4 linked regions of the Homo sapiens genome follow. The protein of the gene in region 2 purifies or fractionates together with the protein of the main gene of each other region. This does not show direct contact. Each region holds a gene or a part of one and is shown on either strand. Other genes may lie near its edges.

The links. Proteins that work in one complex are often made in the same cells at the same time.
Region 1: the proteins of RNF6 (region 2) and MYO1B purify together in Homo sapiens (affinity purification with mass spectrometry, with the first as the bait; one large-scale study listed by BioGRID). This does not show direct contact.
Region 3: the proteins of RNF6 (region 2) and ASAH1 purify together in Homo sapiens (affinity purification with mass spectrometry; one large-scale study listed by BioGRID and IntAct). This does not show direct contact.
Region 4: the proteins of RNF6 (region 2) and NT5E purify together in Homo sapiens (affinity purification with mass spectrometry, with the first as the bait; 2 studies listed by BioGRID). This does not show direct contact.

Annotation. Positions count from the first base shown.
Region 1 is NC_000002.12:191,415,686-191,420,781, forward strand, and holds part of MYO1B (unconventional myosin-Ib), read left to right. Parts: intron 1-429; coding exon 430-557; intron 558-5,096. UniProt on the Homo sapiens protein: Motor protein that may participate in process critical to neuronal development and function such as cell migration, neurite outgrowth and vesicular transport.
Region 2 is NC_000013.11:26,214,759-26,219,854, forward strand, and holds part of RNF6 (E3 ubiquitin-protein ligase RNF6), read right to left. Parts: intron 4,910-5,096; 5' UTR 4,892-4,909; coding exon 4,699-4,891; intron 3,849-4,698; coding exon 3,753-3,848; intron 835-3,752; coding exon 1-834. UniProt on the Homo sapiens protein: E3 ubiquitin-protein ligase mediating 'Lys-48'-linked polyubiquitination of LIMK1 and its subsequent targeting to the proteasome for degradation. Negatively regulates axonal outgrowth through regulation of the LIMK1 turnover.
Region 3 is NC_000008.11:18,076,730-18,081,825, reverse strand, and holds part of ASAH1 (acid ceramidase isoform a preproprotein), read left to right. Parts: intron 1-5,096. UniProt on the Homo sapiens protein: Lysosomal ceramidase that hydrolyzes sphingolipid ceramides into sphingosine and free fatty acids at acidic pH.
Region 4 is NC_000006.12:85,469,865-85,474,960, reverse strand, and holds part of NT5E (5'-nucleotidase isoform 1 preproprotein), read right to left. Parts: intron 3,725-5,096; coding exon 3,536-3,724; intron 1-3,535. UniProt on the Homo sapiens protein: Catalyzes the hydrolysis of nucleotide monophosphates, releasing inorganic phosphate and the corresponding nucleoside, with AMP being the preferred substrate. Shows a preference for ribonucleotide monophosphates over their equivalent deoxyribose forms.

The sequences.
Region 1 (5,096 bases), on a different chromosome or scaffold from region 2:
TTGTCATTAGGGTTTTAACCAAATCACTGAAAAGTTTTTTAATCAAGTCCTTCAGAAGAGTTGCGGGATAGGTCCATGCTCCTCAAACCTGAATGTGTAAACCCATACCTGGAGGTTGCGTTGTGGTTTCATATTCACTGGGGCTGTGGTAGGGCCTGAGATTCTGCTTTTCTAGCAAGCTCCAAGTGATGCACATGGTGCTTCTGCTGCATCCACCGACTTTAGGTAGAAGGGGATTAGGTAACCTTACTAAAGTGCTCTGAGCAAGTTGGAAGAAACACTGCTTTTGTCATTATTGTTTACCTTGGGAGAATGGATTCCAGGATCTGATGTTTTAAAGAGACTGTAAGTATGTTTTTAGCCAAGCCTGTAAATATTGACCTTCTAAGGTATCTTTAATTATGACCGACTCTTGGTTTGTCCTTGCAGGGCTCAGAAGCAGCTAGTAAAGGAGACTTTCTCTTCAGCAGTGATCACCTGATTGAAATGGCCACCAAGCTCTATCGCACAACTCTCAGCCAAACCAAACAGAAGCTCAATATTGAGATTTCCGATGAGTACGTTCATGTATTGTTTGAAAACCCTTTTTCTCTTTCAGCTTTTTTGTTTTAGTTCAGCTCTCGATCTCATTCATTAATACAACTACTTATTAAGTACCAGGTATGTGTCTAGTAGTTGTTCCACATGATAAATGGGCAGTGAATGACACTGACCAAGTCTCCAACCTCATGTACCTGACATCCTAGTGGAAGAGACCAGTATGTACAAATAAAATGATGAAATAGTTGATAAGATTTTGGCTAACAAGTGTTTATGGAGGAAAAAAAGGGTTAAGAGTCAGAGAGTAGGCCAGGCGCAGTGGCTCACGCCTGTAATCCCAGCACTTTGGGAGGCCGAGGCAGGCGAATCACGAGGTCAGGAGTTCGAGACCAGCCTGGCCAACATGGTGAAACCGTCTCTACTTAAAATACAAAAAAAATTAGCTGGGCGTGGTGGCGGGCGCATGTAATCCCAGCTACTCAAGAGGCTGAGGCAGGAGAATCTCTTGAACCCGGGAGGCGGAGATTGCAATGAGCCGAGATCGTGCCACCGCAATCCAGCCTGGGTGACAGTGTGAGACTCCGTCTCAGAAAAAAAAAAAGAGTCAGGGAGGCCTCTTTGATGTGGTGACATCTGAGACTGGTATAAATTTGAAATTTGCTTCTTCAATTTCTCATTAGGGTTCTGAATATAGAAGTTAGTTATTTGCATACAGGTTGGGGCATCCCCAGATTTATTGTATCTATCTATGTAAGTGTTTTGGAGAAATCTGAGTTACTGTGTTGATTATACTTAATTGGTTACCTTTCAATAGATTGTTTACCTGCTTATATACTTCTTTGCATGTCTAGATTGCTCAGGAAATTATATTCTTTTCTAATTAAGAATTTTCTAGTCTATTCTGTTTCAACTCTTCCTAAAAGTCTTTCTAAAATAAATTTACACCCATTTCTGCCCCTTTGTAAGTCAGACTCTCTTTGATATGTTAGGATTTTGCAGTGCTGTGGGCTTTTCTTAAGTTCTCATTGAAGTGTTTAGATTTGGGTGGGAGGTTGGGCTTCATGTATACTCTATATTGGAAATTGCTGTTCGGACTAAATAACTTTTCTTGTTAATGAGATCTTTCTCATAAAGAAATTAGGAAAAAAATAATGGTTGGTGTGTTTCAGTTAAGGATTTAACACGTTAGGGCCTATTAGAGCTTTAAAATCCCTTTATAATAGTTGAAGTTTTTCATAATCTGGGAGAATGGGCTTTGGTGGGGCTGCTAATTCTCACTCACCATGGGAAGATCGTATGTATCCCAGACAGCAGAAGCTCCTCAGTGTACAGACGAAGCAGTCTCATAGTTGTCCCACTATGTGAATAAACTCATCTTTACACAGAAAGGAAATCACACCAACATCCAGACCACAAAGTACTGCTATTTTTAAGCATTTCCCAAACCGGGATTCTAGGAACATTGCTTGTACAGGATGCTAATAACGATGTACTGTGAAAAAATTGTTCTCTGATGGAAATTTAAAATCTTTCTTCACTACATTACATCTCAGAGTCCCTGAAATCTTGTTGTGATTCTCCTGAGGAGCTTTGCGGGGATAGCGTGTGGCGTGAATCCTAAACATAGTCAACCACAGAGCTCCTTCAGCAGCTCTCACAGCTTGTGTTCGAAGGTGTGCCATCTGGGAAAGGGGGACAGTTCGCTTCTGGGCAGCAAGGGCCCTGCCCTGTCACAGAGGGCGTGTGATGTTCTGGATGCCATAAGCTTTCAGTAAACAGTTGTCTGAGCGAAGATTTATAATGTGGCCACATGAAGAAAACAAACATTGGGTAGCATTATAATGCCTTTCATTCTCCAGTGCCTAATTATTGATTGGTCTCATAAAAATAAAACAGTTCATAGGACTCTACATAGCACCCGTGGGTCCCTTCCCCAGGTGGCACAGGAAGCCTGCAGAGGAAGTTTGTAGGTAAGGATCGTAAATCTCCTTAGGGAGCATTTTGAATTTAAACGAAAATGTCCAAAGTCATAGGCAGGGGCGCCTGTTCCTTTATGTGTCAGCCCTAAGTGGCTTCGCTAGCTCTATAGAACCAGTGTTGAAAACCACATGCAGTTTAGTGACTAAGCCCTTCCTTGCTTTTTCCTTCCCAGAAGTAGAAGTAGTTACTCTAACAAACCTAGATTCTGTAATCATTATGGATAAGTGGATGTCAGTTTATGGAAAGAGAGTCAAAGTCCTGTTTACTCTTTAGTGGATTTTTTTTTTTTTTTTTTTTTTTTGAGGCAGAGTTTCGCTCTTGTTGCCAAGGCTGGAGTGCAGTGGCACGATCTTGGCTCACCGCAACCTCCGCCTCCCGGGTTCAAGGGATTATTCTGCCTCAGCCTCTTGAGTAGCTGGGATTACAGGCATGCACCACCACGCCTGGCTAATTTTGTATTTTTAGTAGAGATGGGGTTTCTCCATGTTGGTCAGGCTGGTCTCGAACTCCTGACCTCAGGTGATCCGCCCCCCTGGGCCTCTGAAAGTGCTGGGATTACAGGCGTGAGCCACCGCGCCCAGCCTGTTCAGTGGAATTTAAACTTGTACATATAGAAGTGAGAATTGAATTCATTCAGAGATTCAGCTGCCTTATAGTTTCTAGTCCTTAAACTTCTAAGCTGTTCAATGTGTAACTAGATTGCATTTTAAGGATAACCTGCAAGATGTGTAATGCAGTTATGCACCACATAATGACATTTTGGTCAGCAATGGATTGCACAGATGACGGTGGTCCCCTAAGATTGTAATGGAGCTGAAAAATTCTTCTGTCTATTGATGTCACAGGTGTTGTAATGTTATAGTGCAAGGCACTACTCACATGTTTGTGCTGCTGCTGGTGTAAACAAACCTACTTCACTGCCAGTTGTCTACAAGTAAAAGCACATACAATTATGTACAATATGTAACTCTTGATAATAAATGATGTTGTTACTGGTTTATGTATTTATTATACTATACTTTTTTTTTTTTGAGACTCAGTCTTGCACTGTTGCCCAGGCTGGAGTGCAGTGGCGTGATCTCGGCTCACTGCAAGCTCCGCCTCCTGGGTTCATGCCATTCTCCTGCCTCAGCCTCCCGAGTAGCTGGGACTACAGCTGCCCGCCACCACGCCCGGCTAATTTTTTGTACTTTTAGTAGAGGTGGGGTTTCATCGTGTTAGCCAGGATGGTCTCGATCTCCTGACCTTGTGATCTGCCCGCCTCAGCCTCCCAAAGTGCTGGGATTATAGGCGTGAGCCACCACGCCCGGCCTATACTGTACTTTTTATCTTTATTTTAGCGTGTATGCCTACATGTTAAAAAAGTTAATAGTAAAACAGCCTCGGGCAGGTCCTTAAGGGGGTATTTCAGAAGGCATTGTTATCTTAGGAGAAGACAGCCCCATGTGTATTATTACCCCTGAAGACTTTCCAGTGGGACAAGACATGGAGATAGAAGACAGTGAAATTGATGCTCCTGACCCTGTGTAGGCCTAGGCTAATATGTTTGTATCTTAGTTTTTAACAAAAAGTTTAAAAAGTAAAAATAAAAAAAATTAAAATTTTAAAAATAGAGAAAAGCTTATAGAATAAGGTTATAAAGAAAATATTTTTGTACAGCTATACAAAGTATTGTGTTTTAAGCTAAGTGTTATTACAAAAGAGCCAAAAAACAGCCGGGCCCAGTGGCTCACGCCTGTAATCTTGGCACTTTGGGAGGCCAAGGCTGGTGGATTGCTTGAGCTTAGGAGTTCAATACCAGCCTGGGCGACATGACGAAACCCCTTCTCAACAAAAAAATTAAAAAATTAGCCAGCCATGGTGACACACACCTGTAGTCCCAGCTTCTCAGGAGGCTGAGGTGGGAGAATCATCTGAGCCCGGGAAGGTCAAGGCTGCCCTGAGCCATGATTGCTCCAGTGAACTCCAGCCTGGGAGACAGACCAAGACCCTGCCTCAAAAACAAAACAAAAGTGTCAAAAATGTTTTTAAAATTGTAAAGTTTATAAAGCAAAAAGTTACAGTAAGCAAAGGTTAATTTATTATTGAAGAAAGAAAAAATTACCTATAAAGTATACCGTAATGTAATGTCCTAGGCCTTCACATTCACTAACAACTCACTCACTGACTCACCCAGAGCTACTTCCAGGCCTGCAAGCCCCATTCATGGTAAGGGCGCTAGACAAGTACACTATTTTTTATCTTTTATGCTATTCTTACTGTACCTTTTCTATTCTTACTAAGTTTACACATACAAATACCATTGTGTTACAGTTACCTACAGTACAATAACACGCTGTAGCATCTAGGTTTGGGTAAATGCACTCACTCTATGATGTTTGCACAATGACAAAATCACCTAGTGATGCATTTCTCAGAATGTATCCCTTTTATTAGATGATGCATGACTATATTTCTAAAATCAAGTTCCCAAATAGAGTAAAAACTAAAGTGAATTTGTTTCATTAAACATTTTAAATATATGTGTGTGTATATACATATAGGTATACACGTGTGTACAATAGATACACATATAT
Region 2 (5,096 bases):
TTGACACAAGCCTTGAATTAGAGAATGGGGTATATGCAGTACCTCTGCGTTCTCGTTCTCTATCTTGCTCTAAAAAGACTCGAGTTCTACCTCTCCTCCTAACAGATCTTCTAGTGGTTTGCTGTACTGGTCTACTTTCCCTTTGGGAATTATGATAAACAGTGCCACTCTGTCTCTGAATTGGTGAACGGCTTCGACTATTGGAAGTAGATCGTAATCTTATTGGCTCTAATCTTTGGTTTGTATTCCTCACTGTAACATTACTTCTAGCCCCATTTTCCCAAACATGTGCTGCTCCAAACCGTTGCCCCTCCCTTTGCCTGAGTTCACTACCACCTGATTGGTTTGTGTGACTACTGAAATTAGTGCGTGAAGCGTTAGCTCGAGGAATGCCAGCTGCTCCCCCAATTCCATTTCTTAACCTTCCCAATGTTGAGAAAGATCCTTCAGCTGGATTTTGCCCCCTTGAAGCAAGCCTAGTCCTTGGAATGTTGGAACTACTACCATTGAAATTCACTGAGGTTTGGCTTCTTGTTCGCCTAGCCACAGGACTAGTTGACCTTTGTTGCCTATTTGCAGTATGATCTCTGTTACTATCTGAAAGTGGAATGTCTGTATAATCTTCTCCATGAATTTCAAATCCTCTATTTTCATGATTTACGTGGATTTCCAAACTAAACCGAAACTCTCCATTGTTCGGGTTTGTTCGACTCACAGCTCTCCAAGTTTGGTTCCCATTTTGTCCACTTCGAGTTGCATTTCCTGTGCGCCGAAAGGTGTTCAACCATTCTAGAAGAGAATCTTCATGTGAACTTTCTCTAGGGACTTCTGAGTCTAGAAAGCAAAGCAAATCAACTTAAGATCAATTCCTAAGACACACCTTACAGCTTTATTGAAAACTTGTAAGAAAAACAAAGTTTGTAATAAATTAAAGAACATCTGTGGATTTTAATGAATGAAAGATGGCAAAAAGACAACTTTCTAAAAGAAAAGTATATCTACTATAAGCATATTATAAAAATTAAATTACTATTTACATAGTTACAAAGCTTTAAATACTATTTATGCAACGCTATGGAGAAATCCTCATTCTTACTTTCTATCTGCCCATTACTAGCAAAATACTAAGGCAAATGAGAAACATGTCCACTACCAAAAGTTTACATTTAAATTGCTTTATCAATATAGTAATATCAATAAAATACAAAGACAAACTTTATGTAAAATTTGTCCTGTATTTGTGGAATCTTTCTGGAAAAGCCAACTCAGTCATTTTTGCAACTAGGTATTTCTGTAATCTTAGAAATTTTTCCTATTTCTCAGGTGCTGCCAAAAATGTACACATCAAGAAATGTGAGTTTCTGAATATAACATTAAAACCACATTACTGTATTTGTCTTTGTGTGAAGCTGAGAAACCAGGCAAGTTACTTAAGGTCTCTATGGCTGATCCTTGTCTATAAACTGGAGTTAATAATAGAATCAATCTCATAGGGTTATCCTGAGGATAAAATAAGACGCTATATATAACATAATTAGCATAATATCTGGCACATAAAAAGCCACCCCATAAATGTTAGCTGTTATACATAATAAAATACATTTTCTATTCATTTAGAACGTAAGCTCCAGGAAAACAAAGATTTTTGTAGTTTTAGTCACTGTTACATCTCCAGCCTCTACAGCAGTATCTAGTATAAATCAGACTTTCAATTAATATTGCTCAATTAATCAATTTAGAAATGTGTCACCCATAAACTTTTTTGACTAAGATACTGCCACTGTGCCAAGCTTAAATTTTCCATTTATAACCAGTAGATATTATATAAAGTACAAAACTTAATAAAAAGCATCAACACATTAACTACACAAACTTCAACTTTAAAGTTTGTTCTACTCAAAAATAGCTATTATAGGCCGGGCGCGGTGGCTCACACCTGTAATCCCAGCACTTTGGGAGGCCAAGGCAGGCAGATCATGAAGTCAGGAGTTCGAGACCAGCCTGACTGACATGGTAAAAACCTGTCTCTCCTAAAAATACAAAGAAATTAGCCAGGCATGGTGGCGTGCGCCTGTAATCCCAGCTACTCAGGAGGCTGAGGCAGGAGAATTGCTTGAACCCGGGAGGCAGAGGTTGCAGTGAGCCAAGATTGTGCCACTGTACTACAGCCTGGGTGACAGAACAGGACTCTGTCTCAAAAAATAAATAAACAAATAAATAAAATAGCTATTATATGACATCATTCTGATTTCATTTCATTCCTGCAATCTCTCTCGTAAGACTTTTTTAAATGCTGAAGTTGAAGCTATTAATCAGCTGTTGATGCCAATAAAATAAACAGCAACTGAGCCATATTCCAGAGATGATGAGCTATTTTATATTTGATGAGTACATTTTCCACTGAAACATATTCAAAAGATCAGTATTAATTATTGCATCTATATAGTACAACTTACATATCTAAACACAAATAATAAAATGTGTTAATGTCCACTTCCCATTTGTTTGGAAAAAGAATGAGTAAAAGGCAGGTGAACATGAATTATTTTAAATGCTACTTCCTTCTTTGATTAACATTTGATTAAGTGTAGTGATGATGGTGCATGTGAAAGAGTTTGCCAAGTACCTACTCAAAGCTACCCTACTCTTCTTCCATTGTAAAAGCATCGGAAATTGGCTCGTGGACAGCCTGGCAGTTAGGTGTGACCATGAGACTAAGTTCTCATGAATGGAATGGGAGAGTAAGCGATACATCCTACTCTCACGCTAGTGCGTGGACCTCCTTCCTACCAGCTAGAACCTAGATATGGTTGCGACTTACCTTGATCATACAAATGGTACCCTGGAGCAGTGATGCCCCATAAATCTTTCTGAAGTAATGAGTATGTTCTGTATTTGTGCTGTCCAATACAGAAGCCACTAGCCAAATGTGACTATTAAGCACCTGAATGTGGCTAGTATGAATGAGCTAAATTTTAAATTTAATTTGATTTTAATTAATTTCCATTTAAATAGTCACATGTGGCTAGCAGCTACTGTACTGAACAGCACAGTTGTAGAATCATTCTGTTAGCTGAGTGGGTTCCAAGAGGATTTCCTTCCCTGGACTGTTAACGTAAGTAAGAAACTTCTAGCTTATTGAGCCATTGCATTTTGGGGTTTTTACATAGACTTCATGGTAACTAATACAATGATTTTGATATAATATGTGAAACTACTAATAAATACCTCTGAGGAGGGAAGTAGAACTGGTTAAGAGGAACACAAAAGTGGCTTTTCCTTTTAACTCTACATACTTCATTTAGTTTGAAGTTCTTTTATAGTACTTTCCTTATAAGAACTTTTTATATGTAAACCATCAAACAGAACAAAGAAACAAAAACAGGTTTCCTAACTCAGTCTTTCTACACGGTTCTGTATATAAATTTTTAGAAGCTAAGTAATATCACTTTAGAAAAAGTAATGTGTACATTCCAAGATTAAAAAGAAGCATGCTGGGAATTAACTTAATTGTATATTATTACATAAAGCTCTCTGAAGGCAATCTGTGTGTTTAAGACATCTTTGCATTCATTCCTCTGTCCTATACTGCTTAACCATACTGCTTTACTACTCATATATATATTATCTGAATGAGTATCACATTAAAACTGGAAAAAATTGAAGACAAACATACTATACAAGGTCTAAGAATTTCATTTCTGCAAGTGCTCCAATCAAGCCTGTTCCTTATGGAAAGGACTCCATAGTACCTCTGTAATTCGTTCCATCTCTCAAGTCAGGCTGAGATGCTAGTTGTTCCTTGACGCCATCTAACCGCTGTTGCAGTTCTTCTGATGTTATTTCTCCTAAAACAATGAAAAACTGCTCATTTAAGAATTCTGAATTAAGTTTTATGAGACCTCATGAAGGGTAAGACTAATCTTTAGTAACCTATAGAAGACAAATGTCTTATTACTTTCATATGTTCTGTAAATTGAAGACAGTTAAAAATATTCAACTGGTACAAATGTGCATCAATTCGGTTGTGCTTCATTTATTAATCTTTTATTAAAAATTATTAAAATAAGATTTAATTTGAATAGTTGGTAAAGTGCTGCCAGTTGATACACTTAGGAATCTATAAGCTATAACTGTGGATTTTTGTCAGTTAAAAAGAAATTAAGGGAGCATTTATAGAGAAAACTTCAAATATTTACTTGAATTTTATCCCAAATACTTCATTATATGGGTCATCAATATACAAACACACAATATATAAACATACAAATTTCCATTAGTTCATTTGTAAAAACTTTATGGAACACATTGGGCTTTGGGGGGAGCTATTAATTCAGCTGAATAAATAAATTATAATACCCCAAATGAGTTCAAATTGGGTTTTAAGTCATATTTTATTTGTATAAAAATTACAAATAGGACCATATATGTAAATACTTAACACCATTATGTACATTAACCTGTTTCTTAGTTTGGCATTTGTATAATAGTGCTCCATGTCCCCTATTTTCACCTTATAAAATACAGAAGCCAGTGATTTTCTACTTTATTATACTAAAAAGTTCTTAAACTCACAAAAACAATATACTATATTTTCATAAAGAGAAGCAAGGAAAAAGAATACCAATTCTCCTTATCTTGAAATCCTTCCATCTAAATGATGAAAAAAGGGTGTTTCCTCTTTTACCCATCTCTTACCAGGGGTGCCTAAAAGATTATGGTCTCTCATAAGCCGATAATCTTCATCATTGAGTTCATTAATAAACTGATAATAGGCCTCTTCTCTGTGGAGACGCTCTTGCTGCCATCTTCTCTCATTTTCATGATGATTATGGTCTTGAGGTAAGGTTTCTTCACTGCCACCATCTGATCTCGATCTAGACTGATTCATCCTGAGATTCCTGGCTTTCTGTTCAAACAATATAAACAACATTCAAGGTGTTAAGTCATGGACCACATTTGGCTTTGTATTTTTAACTTGCAGTTTTTCTTAATTTTTAAATGTTGTCCCCTACCCAAATACTGTATTTGCCAAATCTTGCAGTGAGAAGCTTACATATAAAATGAAAAACAGCTTCTAGGAAATACAACACAAT
Region 3 (5,096 bases), on a different chromosome or scaffold from region 2:
AGAATAAGCAGTTTTTCAACTGGAGTCATTATATGATAAACTATAGCCTCATGGTAACAAAAGATATTTCAAAAGTACTTTCAATAAATATGAATAATGAGAAGCAGCTTTAAATTGGAAACAAGTCATTTGATTTAGAACATCTGTAAGGATTTTTTGTGTGTTTGTTTTTGAGGCTTTTCACAATATTCCTATGTGAAGGTCCTCCTGAGTTATTCTTCATTATTGAATTTTTTAGGAGTCTATTAAGAGATGATGGTGAAGACAGTGGCACAAGAAATGTCTGGAGAGATAGCGCCAGATGACATCATCCAGGGTTCTGTAGACTCTTATTAAGGATTCAGAAATTTATCCTAAAAAATGGGAGGATCTGGAACCAGCCAATGGGAGGCCATTAGATGGTTTTAGACAAGATAACATTTTCACTTTAAAAAGATGAGTCTGGATTGGAGGTCAGCAAGGGTAGATATGAGGAGACTAGTCCAGAAAAGAAAACAGGGTGCGTTGAAGGATGGTGGCGCCAGGGGTGAGGGAGAGAAGTAGATGTTCTAGAAAAAAATCAGGAGGGCGAATGAGCTGAAGGAATCGTTGGGTGAGGATGAGGGAGTGAGGTGTCAGCGTGACCTGCACATTGCTGAAGTGCTTCGCTGGGCGAATGGTGGCATCCGTTCCAGGAAACATGGGGAGGGGAAAGCTTGGGGGCTAAAGAATGAGGATCGTTTTCATTTGGGGTGTATGTTAAATTTCAGGTGGCAGAGAGGCATCCAGCAGGCCACTCGGACTGGCACTCAGAAGAGAGACACTGAGAGTCACTGGCATAATGATATTATATTTGAAGCCCTTGGAGCAGATGAACTTACCTAGAAATAGGATAGAGAAAGAGAAGAAAAGAGAACTAGGCAAAGGCTAAGTAACTTGCACATGTATGTGTCAAGAAGAGGAGAAATTGCCAAAGTTAAAACAGGACAGGCCGGGCGCGGTGGCTCATGCCTGTAATCCCAGCACTTTGGGAGGCCAAGGTGGGCAGATCACGTGAGGTCAGGAGTTTGAGACTAGCCTGGCCAACATGGAGAAACCCTGTCTCTACTAAAAATACAAAAATTAGCTGGGCATAGTGGCTCACGCCTGTAGTCCCAGCTACTCAGGAGGCTGAGGCGGGAGAATTGCTTGAACCTGGGAGGGAGAGGTTGCAGTGAGCCAAGATCCTGCCATTGCACTCCAGCCTGGACAATGAGCGAAACTTCGTCACAGAAAACAAAAACAAAAAAATAGGAGAGTAAGTGGAACAGGAAGCTCAGGGAAGAGACTGGGACAGGTTAACTATGTTGAATATTATTGAGATGTCAGTGGTATTATGATGTTGGGCAACTGGAGGTCATTGGTCACCTCGACTGGAGCAGTGTTGGGGGCAGAAAACAGCTTGCGGTAGGCTAAGTGTGATTGGCAGGAAAGGAACTAGAGGGGAGAGATGGCTGCTCTGCGTAATAAATCTGACCCACTTCATAAGATGTGCGAAGATGAAACGTAATGGCTTAGTAATTAATTGCCAAAGTAAACTTGTAAACTCATTTTTATGCATCAGCTTCTCATACTAGTTAACAGCGTATGTCAACATTGTTGACATTAGCTATTGAATCAGCTTTAGCAATGATTTTCACGCAGTTGCCAGAAATCTCATAGACCCCATCTGGCCTAGGAATTTATTGCACTTCATCTGCTTTTCCCTACTTCTCCCAAAGAGGGAACACACAGGTGTAATCCATTCACTTATTCAACAAATACTGCTTGCCTACTATGTGCCAGACTCCTAAACGCTGGGAATGCGTCAGCCAATGAGATAGATGAGGTCCTTCCTCTCATGGAGGGTTTATTCACATTCCTTTGACCTAAATATCAGTAGCTTAATAGGATGCCATCCCATCAAAGCCCAGAAGACAAGTGAAAACATTTTCAAGCTCATGTGAATTCTTGTACACGTAGGAAACATGCCTCTTTGTATTCAGTGTTTCTGCTGAGTTGTACATAAGAGGACATTATAGGAAAAACTTGTCTGCAAAATAGTTGTTGATGAATTCAAGAATTGAATGAATGAAAAATTGTCTGGCTAGAGTTGTTTGGCTTCTGGTGGGTATGAAAACTGACATGAGGTATGTAATTTTAGATTATCCTTCATTGTCTCTTTCTGAGTATTTCAATAAGACAAGCACACAAGGGCTTTCTGGACTTTTAAAATTCACTATTAGAAGCATACATTATTTCATTGAGGGTCTCCTAATTCTTTCGGGCTCAAATATTTTAAGGAGCTGTACAAGTTATGCCATTTTTTAAGGGTATGGCGCTTTCATTGAGACCTTAATGTTCTCTTTATATTTTTGTGTTTTTTTTAGAATGTTGTGTTCAGTAGCTCTGTAATTAATTTCTCTTAATGAATGGGGAGGACATTCAAAGAGGCTTAAGTTTCTATCAAATAACCAGAAAAATTAGAGAATTTTCTGACCCAAACAGTCTTTTAAAAGCACTTTCCAGAGAGTTTTTTGTTTTTTTTTTTTTTCTGAGATGGAGTCTTGCTCTGTCTCCCAGGCTGGAGTGCAGTCACACTATCTCGTCTCACTGCAACTTCCACCTCCCGGCTTCAGGCAATTCTCCTACCTCAGCCTTCCGAGTACCTAGGATTACAGGCACATGCCACCCAGCTAATTTTTGCATTGTTAGTAGTAACGGGGATTTCGCCATGTTGGCCAGGCTGGTCTTGAAGTCCTGACCTCAGGTGATCCACCCACCTCAGCCTCCCAAGGTGCTGGAATTACAGGCATGAGCCACCATGCCTGGCCCAGAGAGTTTCAAATGCATTGAAATATCAGATTTTTACCACTTATCTTCACTCTTAGGAGACCACTGAGGGGCAGGGAGAAAGGTAGGGAAGGGCAGGGAGAGAGAGAGAAAGAGAGGTACTGTGGGGAGAGGGTTAGAGAGAATTGATTCTAAGTTGGATTTTGTTTCCTGTGATAGGGTGTACATAGTATACCATCCAGACCACATAATCTCTCTTCTTATCATCTGTTTCTAATCTTTACCTATCATCTATTTAAGTTTTTACCTGCCTTAATAGAGTTGTCTGTTATTAAACTGTTTATAAACTTGGGGATAGTAAGGAACTTTAAATAACATTAAGTAAGTTCATTATAATTCTGTTTTAGGGCTACTCGTGGGTTTTGAAGCTGTGTCTCCCTGTAGAATTCTTTTTTGAGGGGGAGGAAGTAGCTCTTTTTTCCACCCTACCCCTAAAACTAACCTTTTTGCATAAACGACTTAGGCGTTCATGCCATGTGAGCCCCTGAAATACTGTAGTCTCATAGCTGCCAACTTTCTTATTTTCTGTCACACTTATCCTATTTCCTTGCAGCCAGGTTCTATGCCAATTTCACGTTTGTTTATTGCTACCAAGAGTCGTTATCAACCTCAGACTCACTCCACATGTATTGTTGCTAGCTTGCTCTTTAGTTCTTACCTCTGGGGCAGGTCACATTCTCTCCTAATACTAGACAGAGCATTTTCAACTTTGCTCACAGTTGTCTAGTAAGAAATGTGCCTGTAATTTGATGTTTATTTTGGCTTTGGAACCCAGGGCGTGCAAATGTCATTATTAGGAAGGGATAGGAGTCATTACGTTTCACTTAATTTGCCGAGTTGATTCTAGTGATCACCAGAAGCCCTGAACTACGCGCAGATTATTCTGTTAGGAATTAAATTGAGGCATTGGTTTTATTATCTCTGTGGGAAGCTGTTTGATAGAACAGGGAAAGCCATTGACTCTGATTCTGTCACCAGCTGTGTAACTTTCTACAAGTCACTAATGGAGCAGGGTCTTAAGTCCACAACATGATCATAAAATTAAGCACTTGGGTTAAGTACCCATCACAGTATTCCCAACTCATAGGAAAACAATGGTCAGATAAACAAGAAAATGTAAAGCGGAGTATCTCCTCACAGCAGAACTTATTTACAAATTTTACAAAGTAAAATTAAGTTGCAACCCCTATAAGTCTCTAAGTAGCTCATTTATTAGCAAAATAAGGAAAGCCATTTACCAATGGTGGATTACCTAAATTGTATTCGATTGTAGTAGCAGAAGTATTGTGTCCAGGGAAAATGAAATTATTTTACATGTCATTGAGAACCCTTGTCCTGGACTTTGGGAAGAACATCAATATCAATTAAAGAACAAAGCATGTGATTTTTGAGTGATTTTTCTTGACTGTCAACATACCGATAACTGATCAGTTGTTGATATTTATTAGATGATCATTGCCAAGTTTGAAGTGACTGAAGAGTTAGCCTCTGAATCATCTGTATAAAACAACTACAGGCGAGGATGTTTTCGAAGAAGCTGAGAAAATAATGATTGAGTATAACCTGGAATGGAATCTGCTAAGATCTATAAAAATTGACAGTAGTAAAAATATTTGTGAGTAGAAAAAGGCGGAGTTGAGCAAATTCACAAAACTTGTGAACATGCGAGGTGTTTAAAGCTCATGGTTATTTATTATAGTATTCCTTTTCAGATATTTTGTGGAAAATATTGGAATCTCACATGTGTTATTGAACCGGCAATATAAACCATGAGCTTCATTTGCTCTTGTGGATATAACCGTCATCATTTCTGTGAATTATCAGAAATAGAGGCCGGATATCCTGATGTCTCTTGTGACAGAGCCATTAGATAGCTTGCTAGCTGTAAAGTTTTGCAGTCTTTGAGTTCACAGTTGAGACTGAAGTTTTTCTAAACGAGCTGCCCCCAGCCACTATTACTGAACACGAATGGCTTTGGAAATTAGCTTTTGCTACAGACTTGATATTGTTTCTTAATGAATTCAACGCAAAATTACCAGACAAAGCCAGACATATGTGAGAAACTTACAGTGTGGTAAGGCAAATTTGACAGCTAATGTTTGAATCACAGGTAATGTCAACCTACTTTATATATTCCCCATGTTATCAAAAGTTAAAACAAGGTGCTAGACCTCCATTCTTACACAGCTGTCCAGCAGATACATTTTCTGTGCTCAAGCTACAGTTCCAGGAGTTTTCTGAGCTCA
Region 4 (5,096 bases), on a different chromosome or scaffold from region 2:
ATGTTTTTGCTGTTGTTGCTGTTGTTGAGACAGGGTTTTCACTCTGTCACTCAGACTGGAGTTCAGTGGAGTGATCATAGCTCACTGCATCCTCAACCTCCCCGATTCAAGCAATTCTCCCACCTCAGCCTCCTGAGTAGGTGGGACTACAGGCATATGCCCCTACACTTGGCTAATTTTTAAAAATTTTTTTTGTAGATATGGGGGTCTCCCTATCTTGCCCAGGCCGGTCTCGAACTCCTGGGCTCAAGCAATTCTTCTGCCTCAGCCTCCCAAAATTCTGGGATTATAGGCATGAGCTGCTGTGCCCAGCCACCTTTAATTGTTAAGTTCACTCATCAAAACGATGAGTATGAAAAGTGAAGATTTTCATCAGAACAAGTTTAATCTTGGTAAGCAATCATGAAATGTGAAGTAAATGACTAAGTATTAGTTATCTCAGTTTTCTCAGAGACTGTAATTATTTACTTCAGGATTTACAGATAAGCAAACTCTAATTTTTATCCTCAAATCTTTCTTTCATCCAGTCCTTCATCATTAACTAAATTTATCTACTTAGCAAAGGCACATACAGTTGGCTGTCTCTAACTGTGGGTTTTGCATTGTTGGATTCAGCCAGCCATGAACAAAAAGTTATTTTCTAAAAAAGGATGGTTTTATCTGTACTGAACATATATTTTTTCTTGTCTTTGCTCCCTAAACAATACAGTATAACAACTATTTACATATCATTTACATTGTATCAAGTATTATAAGTAATCTAGAGATGACTTAAAATATATGCGAGGATGTGCACAGGTCATATGCAAATGCTACACCATTTATATAAGGGACTTGAGCATCCATGGATTTTGGTATCCACAGGGAGTTCTAGAACCAATCCCCCACAGATACTAAGGCATGACTGTACTGTTATGGGAACAAAGGACAGGCTACAGAAATAATGGGAAGCTGGGCATGGTCTCCCAATCTTTTCAGGTCTATCAGGGCACACTCACTGATGGACACAAACCACAGGCTATGAATGACTAATTGTTGCTGTAAGACAGCATTGATTAAGATGGTGTAAAGACAAGTCAAGGGGAACACAGGAATGTTCACATCTGAATGAAGGGATGAAACTCCTTTGAGTGTTCATGCATTATTTTGGTCACGTCCCATTTAAAGCTGAGTTTTTAGAAACATGGATTAACTACAGTACAAGAAAATCAATTCAATGAGTGGTAGCTGGCATTAAGTGAATAAAACAGTAAAACAGAAAAGTTGGGGTGCATTCCATGTGCTTTGTGAAAGTTTTCTTTCACTTGTATGTGTTTGCACATACAAGTGCTTTTGCATGTTCGTATGTGAACGCACACACACATATATGTTTGTGTGTTTTGGCTCCCTGTCTAAAATGTTCTTCTTACTACGGGTCATAGTTTAAACTTTTTGAAACCATTATTCTAAAGGAAGAAGGGGGAGGAGACATATCTAGCTCCCACTGTGTGTCCAAGGGTGCTGACACTGCCTCAGTGAAAAGCTAAGGTTTGGGTTTTCACAGGTCTTATCCAGTGAGCCAGCACATAACTAAAATAAGAACAGCTAACATACTAGGCCCTGTGCTAAGGCCATTTACCTATACATTCATTACACATATTAAATCACAGTGACCCCTTATAATAGGTACTGTTGTTATCACCTTCATTCCACAGATGAGGGTAATCAGGCATTGAAAGGACCCCACCATTAGTGGTAGAGTCAGAAGGACTTTGTTGAGTCTTCACCCCTACCCAGTGCTTCCCAGTGACCTGCTCCAATTATTTCCTCGTCTTGGCTCTCTTAGTTCATTTAACCCTCATGGAGTTGTTGAAACTCTTTGATTGCAATGTTATCCATGCTAACAATGTCCAGTGCTAGTCGTCATCCTCATCACATTTATGGATTGTCTGCTATGTGCCTGGGGCTGTTCTTGACATCTTATATACATCTTTTCCCATGGAACAATATTTATCATTCTTATGAGTAATGTAAGTGCCTAATCTATTTTAGTCTTATCTGTCAAAAAAAAAAGCCCTACTACTGGTCATAACCCATAAATTGATTTCACAACCTGTCAGTTTAACTCAGTTTGAAATTATTCCTTAGCCTGTGTTTACCAAGAAGTAAAATATCTGTGAAGGAATTTAATTAGCACACATTCATACTGGTATTTTCTTAAGTGAAGGCCAACTTTAGTTTGTGAGTTATGATTTTGACTGACATATTTTTATAAGCAGGCAACCTCCATGACGCTGCATACCAGAATATAGCTATTTATAGTTTATAAACTGCTTTCACATATTTTTACATCTCATATAATTTTCACAGTAACGTGGAACTTTGAGCATGATCATCCCCTATTTTGAAGCTAAGCTAGCAGATTCAGAGGTGCTAAGTGACCTGCTCAAAGTCATTCAAGTGAATTAGGAATGGGGACTTTTGACCCAATATTGTGTTTCTTTCCTTTTTATAATTTATATTTTGCTTTCCGATTGCAAAAGTAACATGCATTCATTATTTGAAAATACTCCAAAGTACTAGAAAGAAAATAAAAATTACTTTCTTAGTGATAATCCCTTTTAATGTTTTTGGGTATTTCCTACTTATTGTTTGGGGTATTTTGAGTTTCGCTTTTATCAAAATAGCATGGTCTTTGACAGCCCACATAAGGATGGTAGAAGCAGGAGCCTCTTCAAGGGGAGGGCTGTTCCCACGCCAAAGCCTTCTTTGCGAATGCTGATAGAAGAACTGTTTACCAGCCTCTTCTTCCTTTCCTTGGGAATACTTCAAAGATCTATGCAGTGCAAGGTGGGGGAAGTGGGAAAGGTGGAACCAGATTCAAAAGTTTTGGGACATTATAGGTTTAAAGTGGAAAAATCATAAAAGAGTTATTCTGATGAAAACTACTTAACACCAATTTGAGAGAGAAAAAAAGAGAGTGGTGGGGGTAGTCAGGTAGTGGGTAGGAAGAGTGCATGCTCTCCTGAGGACCCAGGGTCATGTGGCTTCCAGGATACTTATATTCCTAGTCTGCAGCAGAGTTAGGACTCACACTCGAGGTCCAGCCTCTGCTACCTGTGCAACCTACAAATCAAATCCACCTTGAGTTATAAAGGTCCTTATTTACATTATTTTGTTTATGCTTAAAGTTTTTATATGACATGTTGCTTTTTGATAAGAATCTATCATAAATGACTTGGTTGGGGCTCAATAGTCTTTTTGTTTTTCATATGTATGGTATATATATGTTTTATACATATTTTATGTCTTATATATTTATTATATACATAAATATATGGAATTGACTTATAATCATGAAATCAATAAATTCTTAGTAATGTTTGTAAGATTTGCACATGTTCCCATTTAATGTATATTACATATATATTATAGATCATATAATATACATTACATATTAAATAGCAGTAAAAAGAGTAATAACAGTTACAAAGGCAAAAGAGACACAGTGCTTATCTGGACATCCTGGCCCATGCAATCCTTTTGAAACAATTACCTGTGTAAAGAAATGTGTTGGAGTGTCCTCCCACCACGACGTCCACACCCCTCACTTTCTGAGCGATGAGTTTATCCATTTCAAAACCCGAATGTCCCAGTGCAATAATTTTGTTCACATTTAGAGTTTTTAACTTATCTACTTCAGGTTGTAATGCAGTGATTTCATCTTCAAACACTAAATTTGTCCCTAAGGAACAAAATAAATAAAATGGATATTTATTAACAATTTTTATTATATTACTTAATATACATATTAACATGCAAAGGTTAAACACCTTAATTTACTAAAGCTCAAGAGTCAGTAAAACCAAAACATATTTATTCATTAAATACAAAACCCCTAAGAAGTAAATAAAAATTCAAATCAATATCCTCATTACATTCACTTTATGTTGTATTAGTTTAAGGTTGTGGATATTGTTTTGCTTGAACTTGGTTGCAAACTGTGAGGAGGCTTCAGATATTGTTTTATATATTTGTACATCTCAACTTCCACAATACCAATGCAGAAAATGCCTAAGCACGTAAGCATGATACACAAAAGAGTATTAGCAACTCCAAGACGTTCGTTGGAAACTTGGGATAATCAGTGTTCAAACTTAAAACTGTCAGCAAGTAGTCCTTGAATGCCTATTTTAATATGGCAGTTGATAACTTTGTCATGTTCTCTTTAATGCCAGCAGGCCAGGCACAGTGGCTCACGCTTGTAATCTCAGTACTTTGGGAGGCTGCAGCAGGCAGATCACTTGATGCCAGGAGTTTGAGACCAGCCCAGGCAAAATGGCGAAACCCTGTCTCTACTAAAAATACAAAAATTATTCAGGCGTGGAGGCACATGCCAGGTACTTGGAAGGCTGAGGCAGGAGAATGTCTTGAACCTGCCAGGCGGAGGCTGCAATGAGCCGAGACCATACCACTGCACTCCAGCCTGGGCAACAAGAGCAAGACTCTGCCTCAAAAAATATATAAATATATAAATAATGCCAGCATTAGAGCATTATTGAGCTCTGTGTTAATCATGAGGGCCTCATCTAAATGTTGCTGGCACTGGGATTGTGTACATTCTTCCCTGGGTGCTTATTACTGCACATAGTGGTAACAAACGATAGCCTTTTGTTATCAGTAGTCAAGCATGGCTCTCACTGTGCAACCCAGGTTCTCTGTGTGCAGCAAGGCAACTGGTTCCTCCAACTGGCTCTGTTAGCCACATTTGAGGAAGCTTTGAGGTTTTATGGCTATCACTGGCATGAAGATGACTGCAAATACAGACATGCTGCCCTGAAGTCATGTCTGGTACTCTGTGACTAGGGAGTCCTCCAGTAGATCCAGACGTTCTTACACTGATTTCTAAGAACTAACACTAAACAAGGGAAGGAGGGTGGGAGAATGACATTTCATTAAAAGCTTTCAAAATGCAGGAGTCTGCAAACTCCAGTTTGAAAAGTACTAATCCAAAGAGTAACAAGATTATTAGAAATGCATCCCTTGTTCCACTGTGAGGTTTAGGAATGTCTGTGTGCTTCAGCAGGGGAACTCCTGAATCCTTAACATTAGCCAAC